2 separate regions of the Homo sapiens genome follow, and region 1 is linked to region 2. The links come from fine-mapping of genetic effects on gene expression. Tissue or cell type: memory regulatory T cells. Region 2 holds a variant in brackets; the other region holds the start of a gene. All regions are shown on one strand. Distances are from middle to middle.

Region 1 (8,099 bases), 150 kb before region 2:
GTGGAGGCGATCAGAGCTGGGAATGGCCAGGAGGGCCCCCGGGAGAGGGGTGTGGTTTCCAAGCCCCCCCACCATGGGCAAAACTACCACTTAGCCTCAGACCGCCTGGTGATTACAGGCGCCAGGGATGGAAAGGGGAGAGGAGGGAGGAAGAAAGGGGTGGGGGTACACTCCCATTCAGACACCTATTTTTATGCCCCATTAATTTGGGGGTCCTTTCTGATCCCCATGGAGAAGCAGGAGGTGGTTGGGAGAGGTGGCACGGCAGGGACAGACGCAGAGGTGCTGTGACAGACAGATGCAGTCACATTTCACTATGGCAATGCCCGACAACTTGGCGCCAGGCTGGACACCGCTGGGGATTCCTTTGTATTTTAGAATGAGAATTGAAGTGCCCAAGATGTAAACTTTCAAAGAATACTCTATTTTTTTAGAATAAGAAACTTTATTATTCAGGGAAATGTTAGATTCTCATTAAATGGTCTGATAGTTCCTGTCCCCTGTTATGAAGATGATTGTAATTGATTAATTATGCTGTGTCAGGTAAATGCTAGAGACTTTTACATGTTGTCTCATTTCACTTAATCACGTCAAAGATCTTTTTTTTGGGGGACAGAGTCTCACTCTCTCGCCCAGGGTGGAGTGCAGTGGCGCAATCTCGGCTCACTGCAACTCTGCCTCCTGGGTTGAAGTGATTTTCCTGCCTCAGCCTCCCAAGTAGCTGGGACTACAGGCGTACACCACCATGCCCAGCTAATTTTTTTGTATTTTTAGTAGAGACGGGGTTTCACCATGTTAGCCAGGCTAGTCTCGAACTCCTGACCTCAGGCAATCCACCCGCCTTGTCCTCCCAAAGTGCTGGGATTACAGGTGTGAGCCACCGCACCCGGCCTCAAAGATCTTTTGAGGTAAGTCCCTCACTGGTTAGGTGAGTCTATCCTGGTTTTACAGATGTGAAAAAGCAGGCACTGAGAGGTAAGGTAATTTGCCCAAGGTCACGCAGGCAGTTATTAGCCGAGTAGGAACCATGCCCAGCTCACAACCCTCACCTTGAGTCAGTCTGACCCCAAAAATCTATTGTTTTTTTTAATTTTTTTTTTTTTTTTTTTTTTTTTTGAGACAGAGTCTCGCTCTGTCACTCAGGCTGGAATGCAGTGGCGCGGTCTTGGCTCACTGCAAACTCTGCCTCCCGGGTTCACGCCATTCTCCTGCCTCAGCCTCCTGAGTAGCTGGGACTATAGGCGCCCACCACCACACCCGGCTAATTTTTTTTGTATTTTTAGTAGAGATGGGGTTTCACCGTGTTAGCCAGGATGGTCTCGATCTCCTGAGCTCGTGATCCGGCCACCTCGGCCTCCCAAAGTGCTGGGATTACAGGCATGAGACACAGCACCCGGCCTTTTTTTAATTTTTGAGATGGAGTCTTGCTCTGTTGTCCAGGCTGGATTACAGTGGTGCAATCTCGTCTCACTGCAACCTCCGTCTCCAGGGCTCAAGCGAGTCTCCTGTCCCAGCCTCCCAAGTAGCTGGGATTACAGGCACCCGCCACCATCCCCAGCCACATTTTGTATTTTTAGTAGAGATGGGCTTTCACCACGTTGGCCAGGCTGTTCTCCAACTCCTGACCTCAAGTGATCTGCCTGCCTCAGCCTCCCAAAGTGCTGGGATTACAGGCATCAGCCACCACACCCAGCCCAGAATCTACTCTTTTGACCAGTACACTGAGCTTCTGAAGCATGTCCCCAAGCAAGCATCGATGCCCTCAGACAGTTTGGGGTGGCCAGAGCCAAGGCTGGGAGCATCTAGTCAAGAGCATCCTAGCCAAGGACTCTAAGTGCTCTTAAGTAAAGCTGTGGAAGTGCTGTGTTTTTTTTCTTTTTTCTTTTTTTTTTTTTTGAGATGGAGTCTCGCTCTGTTGCCCAGGCTGGAGTGCAGTGGCACGATCTCAGCTCACTGCAACCTCCGCCTCCCGGGTTCACGCCATTCTCCTGCCTCAGCCTCCCAAGTAGCTGGGACTACAGGTGCCCGCCACCACGCCTGGCTAATTTTTTGTATTTTTAATAGAGACAGGGTTTCCCTGTGTTAGCCAGGATGGTCTCGATATCGTGACCTCGTGATCTGCCCTCCTCAGCCTCGCAAAGTGCTGGGATTCCAAGCGTGAGCCACTGCGCCCAGCCACAAGTGCTGTTTCATCATTCCCTGAGGGTGCCACAACGTGGGGAGTGTTAGGTTGCTGATTACAGGGTACTGCCTGAGTTACACAGAAATGTTTCTTTCTTTTTTTTTTTTTTTTGAGACAGTCTCACTCTGTCACCAGGCCGGAGTGTAGTGGCACTGTCCCGGCTCACTGCAATTTCTGACTCCCTGGTTCAAATGATTCTCCTGCCTCAGCCTCCCGAGTAGTACGCATCACCACACTCAGCTAATTTTTTGTATTTTTAGTAGAGACGGGGTTCACCATGTTAGCCAAGATGGTCTCGATCTCCTGACCTCGTGATCTGCCCGCCTCGGCCTCCCAAAGTGCTGGGATTACAGGTGTGAGCCACCGCGCCCCGCCTTCTTTTTCTTTCAATGAACTTTATTGAAGCAAAAATGCACATACAATGTAATGCACACATCTTAACGTACAGTTCCATGAGTATTACCAAGTGTATGCTCCTATGCAATCACCACTCCTATCAAAATACAGGGCATTCTTATCATCCTGGAATGTTCCCTCACGTGTCCCTTTACAGGCAATCTTTTCCCTACACCCTGCCACAAGCAACTACTGATCTGATTTCCATCACTATAGGTTGTTTTTGCCTGTTTTATAAGTTTAAGACCGGGTGCGGTGGCTCACGCCTGTAATCCCAGCACTTTAGGCCAAGGAGGGCGGATCATTTGAGGTCAGGAGTTCGACGCCAGCCTGACCAACATGGAGGAACCCCGTCTCTACTAAAAATACAAAAAATTAGCTAGGCGTGGTGGCAGGTGCCTGTAATCCCAGCTACTCAGGAGGCTGAGGCAGGAGAGAACCCGGGAGGCGGAGGTTGCAGTGAGCCGAGATCGCGCCATTGCACTCCAGCCTGGGCAATAACAGCGAAACTCTGTCTCAAAAAAAAAAATTAGCAAAAGGCCGGGAACGGTGGCTCACGCCTGTAATCCCAGCACTTTGGGAGGCTGAGGAGGGCGGATCACTTGAGGTCTGGAGTTTGAGACCAGCCCGGCCAACATGGTGAAACCCCGTCTCTACTAAAAATACAAAAATTAGCCGGAAATCCCTTGAACCTGGAAGGGGGAGGTTGCAGTGAGCCGAGATCACGCCACTGCAGTCCAGCATGGGCAACAAGAGCGAGACTCTGGCCGGGCGCGGTGGCTCACGCCTGTAATCCCAGTACTTTGGAAGGCCGAGGAGGGCGGATCACAAGGTCAAGAGATCGAGACCATCCTGGATAACACGGTGAGACCCCGTTTCTACTAAAAATACAAAAAAAATTAGCTGGGCGTGGTGGCGGACGCCTGTAGTCCCAGCTACTCAGGAGGCTGAGGCAGGAGAATGGCGTGAACCTGGGAGGCGGAGCTTGCAGTGAGCCGAGATCGCGCCACTGCACTCCAGCCTGGGCAACACAGCAAGACTCCATCTCAAAAAAAGAAAAAAAAAGAGCGAGACTCCGTCTCATAAAAATAAAAATAAAAATAAATAAAAAATAGCAAAAGACTGAATAGGCACTTTATAAAAGAAGACATACAAATGGCCAATCAGCACATGAAACATGGTCAATATCATTGATCTCCAGACAAATGCAAATCAAATTGCAATGATGTGCCCACAACACCCATTAAATGGCCAACGCTAAAGACTGACAATATCCAACGTTGGCCATGCCATGGAATAACTGGAACCACCATACACTGATTTTGGAAATCTAGAATGGAAAAACCATTTAGAAAAAAATCGTTTGGCAGTTTCTTATAAGTTAAACACACACTGATATGATCGAACAACTCCACTCCCTAGTTACCCAAGATAAAGGAAAACTATCCACGCAAACTTACAGGAATGTTTACAGGAGCTAAAACAATGGGCAAAACTAGAAACCCACATGTATATCAAAAGAGAAAAATAAATCTGCTTTTTAAAAAAGATTGAAATATCTTGTATTTTAATACCCGAAAAAATTTTATTTCCCCCTAGACTGCCAATTCCAGCTGAGCAGGCTCTCTAACCATCTTATTTACTACCATACTCTCAATTTCTGGCACGGAGTAAGCGCGCAATAAATGTTTGGTGAATGAATGAAAGAATGCCCGCTTTCATACACTAATGGGTTTGTAGCCACCACCCCTCAGGCCTTTTACGCCCTCATTCCTTCCAGGTACAAACGCTATCTGGGCTAGGCCAAATGTGGCTCGCAGCGGGTCCGGGAGCGGGGCACCTACCGGCAGCTCCCGCAGCGGAGGCGCGTCCCCCGGGCGCCGAGGCAGCGCCCGCGGCTGGAGGGGCCCGGGGCGGGCGCCGAGCCCGAGGGATGCGCGCAGCGCGGGGTGCCCCGGGAGGCAGCGGCCGGGCACGCTGGGACCGACGGCGCGGGACGCCCCGACGCCGGGCAGCACTTACCCGCCGCACCGAGAGAGCTACGCGGCCCCGCGGCCCTGCAGGGCACAGGGCGGCCCCCTGCCCGGGGCTCTCGGTGGCGCACTGGGCGGCGGGGCGGGCCGAGGGCAGCGGGGGCGGGACAGGACAGACGAGAATCCCGCGGAGGTGAGGCCGGGGGCCGCCCCGCCCCCGAGGGCAGGCCCTGAGCCCCGGCCCCGCCTCGGCCGGCCCCGCCTCGGCCGGGGCGTGGGCTCCGGCTGCAGCTCCGGTCTGCTCTCTTGGCTCCGGAACCCCCGCGGGCGCTGGCTCCGTCTGCCAGGGTGAGGGGGCCGGGAAGGGGCGCGCGGGGGTCCCGGGTCTCGGAAATCGGGCGGGGACGGAACGGGCTCGGGCTGCGGGGCCTCCAGACTCAGTCGCACGCTCAGATTTCGGGATTTCTACCCCCGGCTGGGATCGCGTAACTTCCTCATTCCCGCCTGGACCCCTGCCCCCGGCCCGCCTGGCCTGGCGTGAGCCCCGTAGCCGCGCGCTCTCCGGACCACCCAGGGCCGCTTCCCCGCGCAGCTGCTGCGCCGCCCCAGGTCGGAGCCTTCCGGGCCTGGCTGGGTGTTCCCCGGGGCTCTGGTTACGGGACGGGGCGGGGGGCGGGGGGCGGGACTGGGATTGTGGATGAAGGACTAAGGTAGGGGATGGGGGCTCGAAGGGGTCGGTGGGGCGTTGCAAACTGGTCAGGCGTCATCCGCGGGCGGTCAGGAGGCCGTGGGGGAAGAGGAGGATCTGGAAGAGATGGAGGACCTGCGGGAGTTAGGATGGGGGGCGGGTTCTGCAGGACAGCTCGCCTCCCTGAGGCTTCCCAATGTTCCTAGGATGACGGCGACCCCTGAGAGCCTCTTCCCCACTGGGGACGAACTGGACTCCAGCCAGCTCCAGATGGAGTCCGATGAGGTGGACACCCTGAAGGAGGGAGAGGACCCAGGTACACAGGGAAGATGGATGGCCCTCAGGGAGGAGAGGCGTTCGGGAGCCAGGGGGCTGGGGCCTGTTGTGGTCTACACTCCTCGACTTTCTTTCCTCCCAGCCGACCGGATGCACCCGTTTCTGGCCATCTATGAGCTTCAGTCTCTGAAAGTGCACCCCTTGGTGTTCGCACCTGGGGTCCCTGTCACAGCCCAGGTGGTGGGCACCGAAAGATATACCAGCGGATCCAAGGTGGCCAGACTGGCCCCAGGGAGGGGGAAAGGGAGGGCGGCCCGGAATGGATCCAAGGTGGCTGGGCTGGCCCCAGGGAAGGGGCAAAAGGAGGGCTGGCCAGAGTGGGGAGGCGGGGACCCACGCAGGGGACATCCATTCAGTTCCTCATACCCCTAGGTGGGAACCTGCACTCTGTATTCTGTCCGCTTGACTCACGGCGACTTTTCCTGGACAACCAAGAAGAAATACCGTCATTTTCAGGAGCTGCATCGGGACCTCCTGAGACACAAAGTCTTGATGAGTCTGCTCCCTCTGGCTCGGTGAGGGCGACCGGACTGCTTCCTGTAGAGGGCAGGTGCTCCCCACCCTCCTTTCTGTCTGTCTCACCCCGGGGCCACAACCTTTCCTCCCTGCAACTCTGGCCACTGTGCTGCCTCCCCTGACCCCAGTTACCAGGAAACTTTCCCTGCTCAGCTTTCCCTGTCCATGGTTCTGTGCCAGCATCTCAGCTGGGCGGGATGCCCAAAATGCTCTTGGCAGCCTCACCCTTTTCTAGTCTCCATTCCCAGGGTAGGGGGCCTCCGTTTTGCCAGCCTCTAGGCCTTTTGTTTGTTTTTTGTTTTTGTTTTGTACAAGGTCTCCCTCTGTCACCCAGGCTAGAGTGCAGTGGTATGATCTTGGCTCATGGCAACCTCCTGGGCTCAAGCAGTCCTCCCGTCTCAGCCTCCAGAGTAGCTAGGACCACAGCCACCACACCCAACTAATTTTTGTATATTTTGTAGAGATGGGGTGCTGCTGTGTTGCCCAGGCTGGTCTTAAATTCCTGAGCTCAAGTGATCCACCTGCTGCGGCCTCCCCAAGTGCTGGGATTCCAGGCGTGAGCCACCACGCCTGGCCACCTCCAGGCCTCTTCTTTTCCTCCGAGCCCCATCTCCAGTGTTTTCAGGAACCAGAGCACCCAGCCTCCCAGCTCTTACCTGACCTTCATCCATCCTTTCCACAGATTTGCCGTTGCCTATTCTCCAGCCCGAGATGCAGGCAACAGAGAGATGCCCTCTCTACCCCGGGCAGGTCCTGAGGGCTCCACCAGACATGCAGCCAGCAAACAGGTGGGACCAGATGCCAGGTCCTCCGGGAAGGCATTGGAGGTGCAAATGGCTCGGTCCCATCTGTCTCTCTCTCTCTCTCATCTCCACTTCAGAAATACCTGGAGAATTACCTCAACCGTCTCTTGACCATGTCTTTCTATCGCAACTACCATGCCATGGTAAGGTCCAGGGGCCGATTTTAGATGTGGAGCAGGATTATCAGACCCTCGGGGAGGAGGGCCAGGGGCCCCAGGGTCTGAGGGGCTGAAAGCCAGGTGTCTCCTCCGGGCTTTTGTTTTCCTCTGCAGACAGAGTTCCTGGAAGTCAGTCAGCTGTCCTTTATCCCGGACTTGGGCCGCAAAGGACTGTGAGTGTCTGGCCCCCTTCACCCAGGCATCCGTAGACATCACTCTTAATTTCTCCCTGCCTGAGATTGGGGCAAGCAGTGCAGGGTGGGCTGGGGGTCTGGAGTCCTCATCCCGCCTCTCTTCCTGATTGTCCCACAGGGAGGGGATGATCCGGAAGCGCTCAGGTGGCCACCGTGTTCCTGGCCTCACCTGCTGTGGCCGAGACCAAGTTTGTTATCGCTGGTCCAAGAGGTACGGGCTATGGCCAAGCAGCTGGGCAGTGGGTGGGGGTGAGGAAGAAAATTTTGAGGGCAGAGAGGAACACACGGAGCCCTTCTGCTCTAGGTGGCTGGTGGTGAAGGACTCCTTCCTGCTGTACATGTGCCTCGAGACAGGTGCCATCTCATTTGTTCAGCTCTTTGACCCTGGCTTTGAGGTGCAAGTGGGGAAAAGGAGCACGGAGGCACGGCACGGCGTGCGGATCGATACCTCCCACAGGTGAGGCCTCCCTGGGGTGAGAGACACCAGCTGAGTGGTGAGCCCACCCACGGCCTTGCTGGGAGTTGAGAAAGAGAGACCACAGGAGAGAGGAAGGCTTTTCCACCTCCCTGGATCGGGACATAGTTTTGAACCAGGAACTGGTCTAGCCAGATGCTTGGGACTGCTCTTAGACTGGGCCCAGAGAAAGGGGATTAGTAGAAGCCTGGGAAGGGAACTGCTGACATAAACGAAATTCCATTTGTTCATTTGTTCATTCAACAAACCCGAGTGCCTGGTACAATACTGGTTGCTGATGCAATACTAGGATCCAACTATGAGTAAGGTGGATATGGCCGGGCGCGGTGGCTCACACCTACAATCCCAGCACTTTGGGAGGCCGAGGCGGGTGGATCA
Region 2 (8,099 bases):
GTAGAGGGACGCGGGCTGGCAGCCGGACGGGGAGCTGGGGGTCCAAGGATCCCCGGGTCCCCTCTCAATCCCAATCCCCAGTAAAAACTGAGGCGCGTCCCCGCCCCGCCCTGGGAGAGGCGGAAGTGGGCCGCCGCACCGGGCGCCGCGCCCCTCCCCGCCCTGTGCCCCGGATGTAACGCCCCGTCGCGGAAAGCGGGGTAGCGGGCGGGATGGGCGCCGCCGCCTGGGGCATAGGACCTACGGGCAACTGAGGGACCCACTCACGTGCAGCCGCCATTCGCGCCGCTTCCAGGGCAAGCACCCAGTCAGGGCCTCTCGCTGCGCGCCCTAGACCGCGCCCGCCCCCACCCAAGTCCCTCCCTCAGGGTCCAAACCGGAGCAGTGCCCCGGACCGCGCAGGCCTCGCAGTACCGTGATGTTGACGAACGTTTTCCCGGGGACGGCGGCCCAGACGGAGGGCGAGTCCTTGTAGCCCACGATGGCCGCGTCCTGACAGGTCCCGTCCGCCATGAGGTTGTCGATGTAGGCGTTCCACCCGGCCATGGCGCTGCTACTGGGGCTGCTCTCGGCGCTGCTGCTGGGGCCGCGGACTGGGCTCGAGCTGCCTCGGCTGGCGGGCGGGGGGAGGCGGAGAGCTCGGGGCACGCGCTGCCGTCCGGACCGCGGCTCCGCTCGCTGTGCAGCAGCCCTCGCACCGCCACTTCCTGCTCCTCCCCCCCCCCGCCCCGCTAGATTTTTATTTGCAAAGGACGGTAGGGGCGGGGCCTACTCCCCATTCCCTCCCTCCCCCACTCGCCAGCCCAGACACCGAACTTTGCAAATGCAATTTTAAAAATCCCTCCCCCTATTGCAAAATTTGCAGAGTTCGATGGAAAGCAATGCAGAAGGATGGGGGGTGGCGGGAGAGAGGTGAAGGGTAGGGTTTGCTCCAATTTGCACTGAATATAAACCAGACTTTGGTATCGGGGCAGGGAGTGAGCCAGAAGAAGGAAGGAAGGAGAAAGCAGGAGGAATTAGCAAGCTGCAAATTTAGCAAATTAAGGAGAGTTCGGGGAGCCCAGGGTTAAACGGGATGACTCCTCCTTCCCCCACCTCCGCCGAAGGGAAGGACCGGCGGGCGGCGGCGCGTGTGCCCGCGCCTGCGCCTGCGCCGGGGCCGGGAGTGCATGGGGCGGTCGGGGCCGGAGCCGGCTGCACGGGAGCGCGCCCGGCCCGACCCGTGTGGACCCTGCGGGAAAGGAAGGCGGGCTGGGGACGTGTCTCCCGCCTGGCGGAAGGGGCGGGGGCGAAGCCGTGCGCGCTGCCGCCTCACCACCCTTGATTTTACTTATTCAAGTAATAAGAAAGCAAAGAAGAGTTTGGCCAAATCCTCTAGTCGCTCTCATAGCTGAAGGCACCCACCGGGGCCACTTCTGTCCCCAGCGTCTTCTCGGGTCGTGCAGGTTGGGTTCACCAGGGCCCATTCTCAGTCTAGAGGATTGTCCCTTCTCTGGATCGGCTCTAGCCCAGGGCCTCACCCCACATCCCAGCCCCGCCCGCCCCAGGCAGGCAATGTCTGGATCACCGGCCGTGCCCCTTGGCCTGTGTCTGCAGAGGTCACAGAGCGCGGACACCCGCGGGGCTTAACAGGCGGGGCTATTTTTCGAGGCGGAAGAATACTCAAGTTGCAAGAGTGGCAACTTTTTCAAGAAGGGGAAAGTCCCACTTCGGGCCCTTTGGGTTTCTTCGCAGTCAGATGTGCGCTCACAGCCACCTGGGGAGGGCGGGACGGGCGGGACGGCCGTGCGGCGGCCGCGGTGAAACCGCCTCCTCCGACCCGCCGCCGAGGGCTGGGCGGCTTCCGGAGCCTGGGCTAGGGGCAAGGGGTCACCGAGCGCGGCCCGGGCGGAAAGGGGGTTGGTTTTCTCTCTCCTCCCGAGCGCGGCGCGCATCCCTGGCGTCCACGCCGAATCCCACAGTCCCCGACGCCCCTCGAGTCCGTGTTCCTCGACAGCCGCGCGGCTGAGTCACTGGCGGGCTCGGGCGGGGCCGCACCCGGGCACGTGGCGGCGCTCCCCGCCCGCCATCTCCTGACCCCTGGCCCACCGCACCCCTACCCCAGGGTGGAAAAATCCCGGGAGGAGCGGCCTGAGATGAGGGGGCGGGGCGAGAGGGGAGACTGGACGGGTGGCGGGGCAGGTGGCCTGGGGTGGGGGCTGGGAGGCCGCGCGGGCCGGCGGGGCGGGGAGCAGGGGTGGGGAGAGGGCGGCGGGGGTGAGTCACCGGGCGCGCGCTGCCCCGGCGCCGACGGGAAGGGCCTCCGAGTCGGGCCGAGGCGCCGTGTGTCCCCCGCCGGTCGGCTGGTATGGCTGCAGAGGAGCTCGGGGCAGACCCCGCACTGGCCCCAGAGCCGGCAAAGTGGAGATCTCTACCGAGGGCAGAGACCTACCTCCCCGCAGTGCTACAAGTGGGGCGCCGGAAGAGCCCCAGGCGTGCAGAAGCTCACAAAAGGCCACCCGTCCTCGGTCCATTCATTTTTGTTCACTGTTGATTCAGCCCCATTCATTGATGGGCTGGGGCCGTGCGCTGAGCGCCCACAGTCGATGGGGAAAGGGGCTCTGACCGACAGTCCCCACGCCGGGCGACAAGTGCTGTCCCAGCGTTATCAGTCGGGCGCCTTGCCAGCCGAAAGGGCCTGTCTAAATTCGTTTCCTGTCCCCTAACTCATCCCGGCGCTGGCTGGCCTGGAGAGGGTAGGATGGGGCGGCGCCGAGAATGGCCGTTATGAGGACCCTAAGAGGTGAGACCCTCTCGCCTTCTGGGGTGGGGGGTCCCGTCCTTTCCCCCACTGAGGACAGAGGCCCGCCCAGCGATCTGAGCATGTGTGGACGTCAATCTTGCAGCCCCTCTTCCAGGCCCCCTCCCCAGCCTTGCAGGGCTCAGGTTACCCCTGGCCTTTCCTAAAGGTCACTCATTCCTCTTGACGTTTGCAAAAGGGGAATGTAATCCTGGGGTGGGGGGAGACCCCTCATCTGTAGCCCCTCCCTTGCTCCTCCCAAAGGGTGGAATTAGAACAGGGACTGTTATTGGGAGACAGAAAGTGGGGGATAGTAGTTGACCTTTGGTAAGGGGGCAGGTGCCCAGGGCCAGAGGCTTCTGCTTCAGGCTGTAGTGGGCACTTGGCTGCCAGCCCAGTGTGAAGGGGGGAGGATGGAGAGAAAGAGAGGCGGGGCTGGCTGGGGACCGAGTGGCTCAGGGATAAATGCGCAGCCTGAGAGGGGGTGAGCTGACACTGTCCCAGCTGCCACCTAGACTCGGAGCTCCATCCAAACCTCCAGCGAAGACATCCCAGGTCGGGTGAATCTTCCAGCCCTGGGGGTGGAGGTAGTAAAGGGTGAGCATGGTATTGGCTTGGAGGAAGTGGGGGACATTTCTGCTTTTTTTCCTCCTGGGACTGGAGATGCTTGAAAAAGCTGGGGGAAGGGGCGGCTGGAGCAAGCAGATGGGACAAACTCTGGGAACACCGAAGGATCTAGGGAAAGGAGGCTGTGAGGAGGGCAGCAGGGATGGATAGAAAAGGGCAGCTAGAGCTGGAACCTGATAGGGAATTGGGGGCCCAAGGAGATTTCGGAGCAGGAAAATGAGAACCAGAAAGGATTTGAAGGCCACCAGCCATGGAGAACAGACTGCTTGACCAGAGGGGTGGAAGGAGAAGGCCTAAGTGGAGGCTTGGGGGAGGTGGGGGCTTGGTGAGCGGTGGCATCCCAGGAGCTATAGATAAGAGGCCCCTGGATTCTTAGGATGGGAGGGTGGAATAAGAGCTGTTCTGAGTGGGGGAGGGGGCTGCGCCTGCCTCTTTGGTCTGTGACCTTTTTGTAGGGTATTTTTAGCTCCAGCACCTGCCTTCTTGGAGTGGGGAAGAATCTTAAAGGGCAAGGGATTTCTGGTTCCTTAAGAGATCAACTGTCTACACTCACTCACACCTCCTGTCCTGCAGCCATGGCCATGCAGAAAATCTTTGCCCGGGAAATCTTGGACTCCAGGGGCAACCCCACGGTGGAGGTGGACCTGCACACGGCCAAGGGTAACACAAGGCCCATTGGATAGGCTCGCCTCCGAAGACCCCAACCCTTTGGCCTTTGCCCCCCAGTTCTGTGCCATATCCTCTCCTTTCTCTCGGGTTCCCTTTCCCAGACTTCTTCCCAAGCCCCCTTCTTCCAACGTGGAACCAGAGCTGGAAGCTAGGAGAAGCAGGAGTCTCTCTCTGCACTGCCTCCTGTCCCTGAGCTCAGAGAGGACACCTCAGCCCTTTGAGAGGTAGAGAGACTCCCTGTGAGGTCCTTTTTTTTGTTTTGTTTTGTTTTGAGATGGAGTCTCGCTCTGTGGCCCGGGCTGGAGTGCAGTGGTGCAATCTCAGCTCACTGCAACCTCTGCCTCCCGGGTTTAAGTGATTCTTGTGCCTCAGCCTCCCAAGTAGCTGGGATTACAGGCCTGTGCCATCACGCCCAGCTAATTTTTTTTTTTTTTTTTTGAGATGGAGTCTCACTCTGTCGCCCAGGCTGGAGTGCAGTGGCGCGATCTAGGCTCACTGCAAGCTCCGCCTCCCGGGTTCACGCCATTCTCCTGCCTCAGCCTCCCGAGTAGCTGGGACTACAGCTAATTTTTTGTATTTTTAGTAGAGATGGGGTTTCACGGTGTCAGCCAGGATTGTCTCGATCTCCTGATCTCGTGATCCGCCCGCCTTGGCCTCCCAAAGTGCTGGGATTACAGGCGTGAGCCACCGCGCCCGGCCTCAGCTAATTTTTGTATTTTTAGCAGAGACGGTTTCGCCATGTTAGCCAGGCTGGTCTTGAACTCCTGATCTCAAGTGATCCACCTGCCTAGGCCTCTCAAAGTGCTGGGATTACAGGCATGGGCCACCGCGCCCAGCCATCCCTGTGATCTTCCAATTCCTCCTG[TC/T]CCAGGCCGATTCCGAGCAGCTGTGCCCAGTGGGGCTTCCACGGGTATCTATGAGGCTCTGGAACTAAGAGACGGAGACAAAGGCCGCTACCTGGGGAAAGGTGAGGAGACACCAGCGCAGAAGGAGCCTGTGTGGGCGGCTTTAGGACATGGGTGCACAATGGGTAGAGGACTGGAACCCCCAAGGCTCTTGAGGAGCTGGGGTCCACAGAAAGGGGCCCAGTTGATTGAGCTCCAAAACTCATCCTCTGGCCTGTCTAGGAGTCCTGAAGGCTGTGGAGAACATCAACAATACTCTGGGCCCTGCTCTGCTGCAAAAGGCAAGTGGGGAAGCCCGCTCGCTGCAGCCTCCTCCCCATGCCCCTGCTCCCTCAGCCCAGACAGGCCTCTCCCGAAACATTTTCCCTTATCCTTCCCCTGCATGTGCCCTGACTTCTGAGAAATCTGACCTCTGCTCTCCCTTCTCAAACTCACCCTTCCAGAAACTAAGCGTTGTGGATCAAGAAAAAGTTGACAAATTTATGATTGAGCTAGATGGGACCGAGAATAAGTGTGAGTGAAGGGCTAGCGGTGGGGAAGGGATGAGGTGTGGGAGAGATGGCGAGAGGCCATGGGGTGAGGCCTGATGGGTTATTTCTGGGTCCCCCATTTTGGGTCACACCGCAGCTGGATGGATTTGTGTTCATTCCACAGGCATTTCCTATGCCTGCCTTCTGCCAGGCCTGGGCCGGGCTGTGGACACAGACATGCAGCTGACACATTCCCCCGGGGTGGGGGTTCCCAGGGCTACTCAGGCTGTTGGGGAGAGATCTGTTAACCAATTCTTCATGCTCAGTGGTTTGGAGCTCTGGCGTCTTCCTGGAGTAGCCACCCCAAACCCTGCAGAAGCTCTCATCCTTTCTTCCCGCTTGCCTCCTTCCAGCCAAGTTTGGGGCCAATGCCATCCTGGGCGTGTCCTTGGCCGTGTGTAAGGCGGGAGCAGCTGAGAAGGGGGTCCCCCTGTACCGCCACATCGCAGATCTCGCTGGGAACCCTGACCTCATACTCCCAGTGCCAGTGAGTGCAGCTACCCGCCCTTCCCAGATCTCGCCTGGACAGAGCCAACCCCGCCCAGCCAGGGTTGGCCCCCCTGGAAAATCCACCTTTCAGACCAGCTCCTAAGAAGCAGTTTCCTGAAATTGAATCTCTCCTGCTGTGGTCCCACCCCTCCCTCTCTTCCACAATCCAAACCTTCCCTGAAGGCTCTATGTGCTTCCTTCCCTGCCATATAACCCAGTTCCTTCCCATTCCAATCCTAGGCTCGATAACTCCAGCCTCGTTCCAACCCCACACCCTACACCCAAATCATATTGAGAGTTTCTTTGAGGCAAAGATCTTGGCATTTCTTTGTATCTTCTTGAGTCCTTCTTAAACCAGTGCCTTCTTGATGAATGGAAACTCTTTGAATTTAATCTCAATAATAATGTTACCATTTCTTGTTACTTACTAGGAGGATTGCATAAGAGCATGGTCTCTAGAGATAGATTGCTGGGTTTGAATCCTGGCTCTGCCTGTTATTAGTTGTATGATTTTAGGCAAGTTCTTTAACTGCTCTGTCTCAGTTTCCCCATCTGTAAAATGGGGGGTAATAACGATACCAATGAATAGAGGTGTTTTGAGAATGAAATGGGCTAATACATGTAAAGTACTTAGTGCGTGGCATGTAGTAAGTGCTATATAAAAGTGTTAGCTATTATATACTAGGCACATGCTAAGAACTTTACATTCAATTTCTCTAATTTTCAGCAAAAGATCCTACAGGGAAGTAGGTGCTATCCCCATTTTACAGAAATGAGGAAAGAGAGGCTGGGCACAGTGGCTCACGCCTGTAATCCCAGCACTTCGGGAGGCCGAGGCGGGCAGATCACAAGGTCAGGAGTTCGAGACCAGCCTGACCAACATGGTGAAACCCCGTCTCTACTAAAAATACAAAAATTAGCCAGGCATGGTGGCACCCACCTATAGTCCCAGCTACTAGGGAGGCTAAGGCAGGAGAATCACTTGAACCCGGGAGGCGGAGGTTGCGCCATTGCACTCCAGCCTGGTGACAAAGTGAGACTCCGTCTCAAAAAAAAAAAAAAAAAAAGAAAGAAATGAGGAAAGAGGCTCTTGAGCAAAACTACTCATCCTAGACCACTGAGCTAGTAAGTAGGGAAGCCAGGTTTCCACCCCAACACCCCCCGCCCCTGTCCCTTCTTGAGCTCTCATGCCCCGGCCCAGGTCCAGACACCCTCTCCCCATCTCAGGCCTTCAATGTGATCAACGGGGGCTCCCATGCTGGAAACAAGCTGGCCATGCAGGAGTTCATGATTCTGCCTGTGGGAGCCAGCTCCTTCAAGGAAGCCATGCGCATTGGCGCCGAGGTCTACCACCACCTCAAGGGGGTCATCAAGGCCAAGTATGGGAAGGATGCCACCAATGTGGGTGATGAAGGTGGCTTCGCACCCAACATCCTGGAGAACAATGAGGGTCAGTGCTGAGCACCCTGGGGGGCAGACCCCCTGGATCTCCACATGGGCAGGGGAGGCTGCAGACAAGGGGCACTGGAGTCTCAGGTCCTTTCTTGGTCCTCCCCCAGCCCTGGAGCTGCTGAAGACGGCCATCCAGGCGGCTGGTTACCCAGACAAGGTGGTGATCGGCATGGATGTGGCAGCATCTGAGTTCTATCGCAATGGGAAGTACGATCTTGACTTCAAGTCGCCTGATGATCCCGCACGGCACATCACTGGGGAGAAGCTCGGAGAGCTGTATAAGAGCTTTATCAAGAACTATCCTGGTGAGGCGTTCGGGTGTCCCAGTGTTCCTGCCCGAATCCCGTGCAGCTGCCTAATATACTGATTTCAGTGACCTGCTTTGCCATCGACTTGGATCCTTCCAATTCTTAGCCCCATTAAAATCCCCATTTAAGCTCTTCTGCCCTGTCACCCCTCCATGAGGCTCCTTCTGACCTCTAGCCGTGTCTCTGCCCTGTCTCTGCCTTGTCTCTGCCCTGTCTCTGCTCTGTCTCTGCCCTGTCTCTGCCCTGTCTCTGCCCTGTCTCTGCTCTGTCTCTGCCCTGTCTCTGCCCTGTCTCTGCTCTGTCTCTGCCCTGTCTCTGCTCCAAACCCCACCAGTGGTCT

Evidence for each region. PIP is the estimated chance that this variant, and not a neighbour inherited with it, causes the effect.
Region 1: it holds the start of PLD2, and the variant in region 2 is fine-mapped to the expression of PLD2 in memory regulatory T cells (Schmiedel 2018, PIP 0.92).

The regions. Positions count from the first base shown.
Region 1 is chr17:4,802,327-4,810,425 of GRCh38, forward strand. PLD2 (phospholipase D2) reads left to right here and starts at 4,826. Exons shown (of 25, transcript NM_002663.5): 1 at 4,826-4,899; 2 at 5,446-5,555; 3 at 5,658-5,788; 4 at 5,948-6,090; 5 at 6,774-6,879; 6 at 6,972-7,037; 7 at 7,167-7,225; 8 at 7,365-7,457; 9 at 7,551-7,703. The coding sequence starts at 5,447. C17orf114 (chromosome 17 open reading frame 114) reads right to left here and starts at 2. Exons shown (of 2, transcript NM_001395223.2): 1 at 1-2. RefSeq lists a silencer at 4,377-5,166 and an enhancer at 5,562-6,761.
Region 2 is chr17:4,947,849-4,955,947 of GRCh38, forward strand. It overlaps PFN1 (profilin 1), which reads right to left and starts at 682. Exons shown (of 3, transcript NM_005022.4): 1 at 415-682. The coding sequence starts at 546. ENO3 (enolase 3) reads left to right here and starts at 3,271. Exons shown (of 12, transcript NM_053013.4): 1 at 3,271-3,334; 2 at 3,980-4,066; 3 at 4,947-5,042; 4 at 5,203-5,261; 5 at 5,424-5,493; 6 at 5,864-5,997; 7 at 7,227-7,449; 8 at 7,559-7,756; 9 at 8,094-8,099. The coding sequence starts at 3,982. RefSeq lists silencers at 1-181, 212-281, 552-891, 1,022-1,271, 1,732-2,141 and 1 more and enhancers at 1,472-1,641, 3,803-4,537. The variant TC/T (reference allele first, on the strand shown) is at 4,941.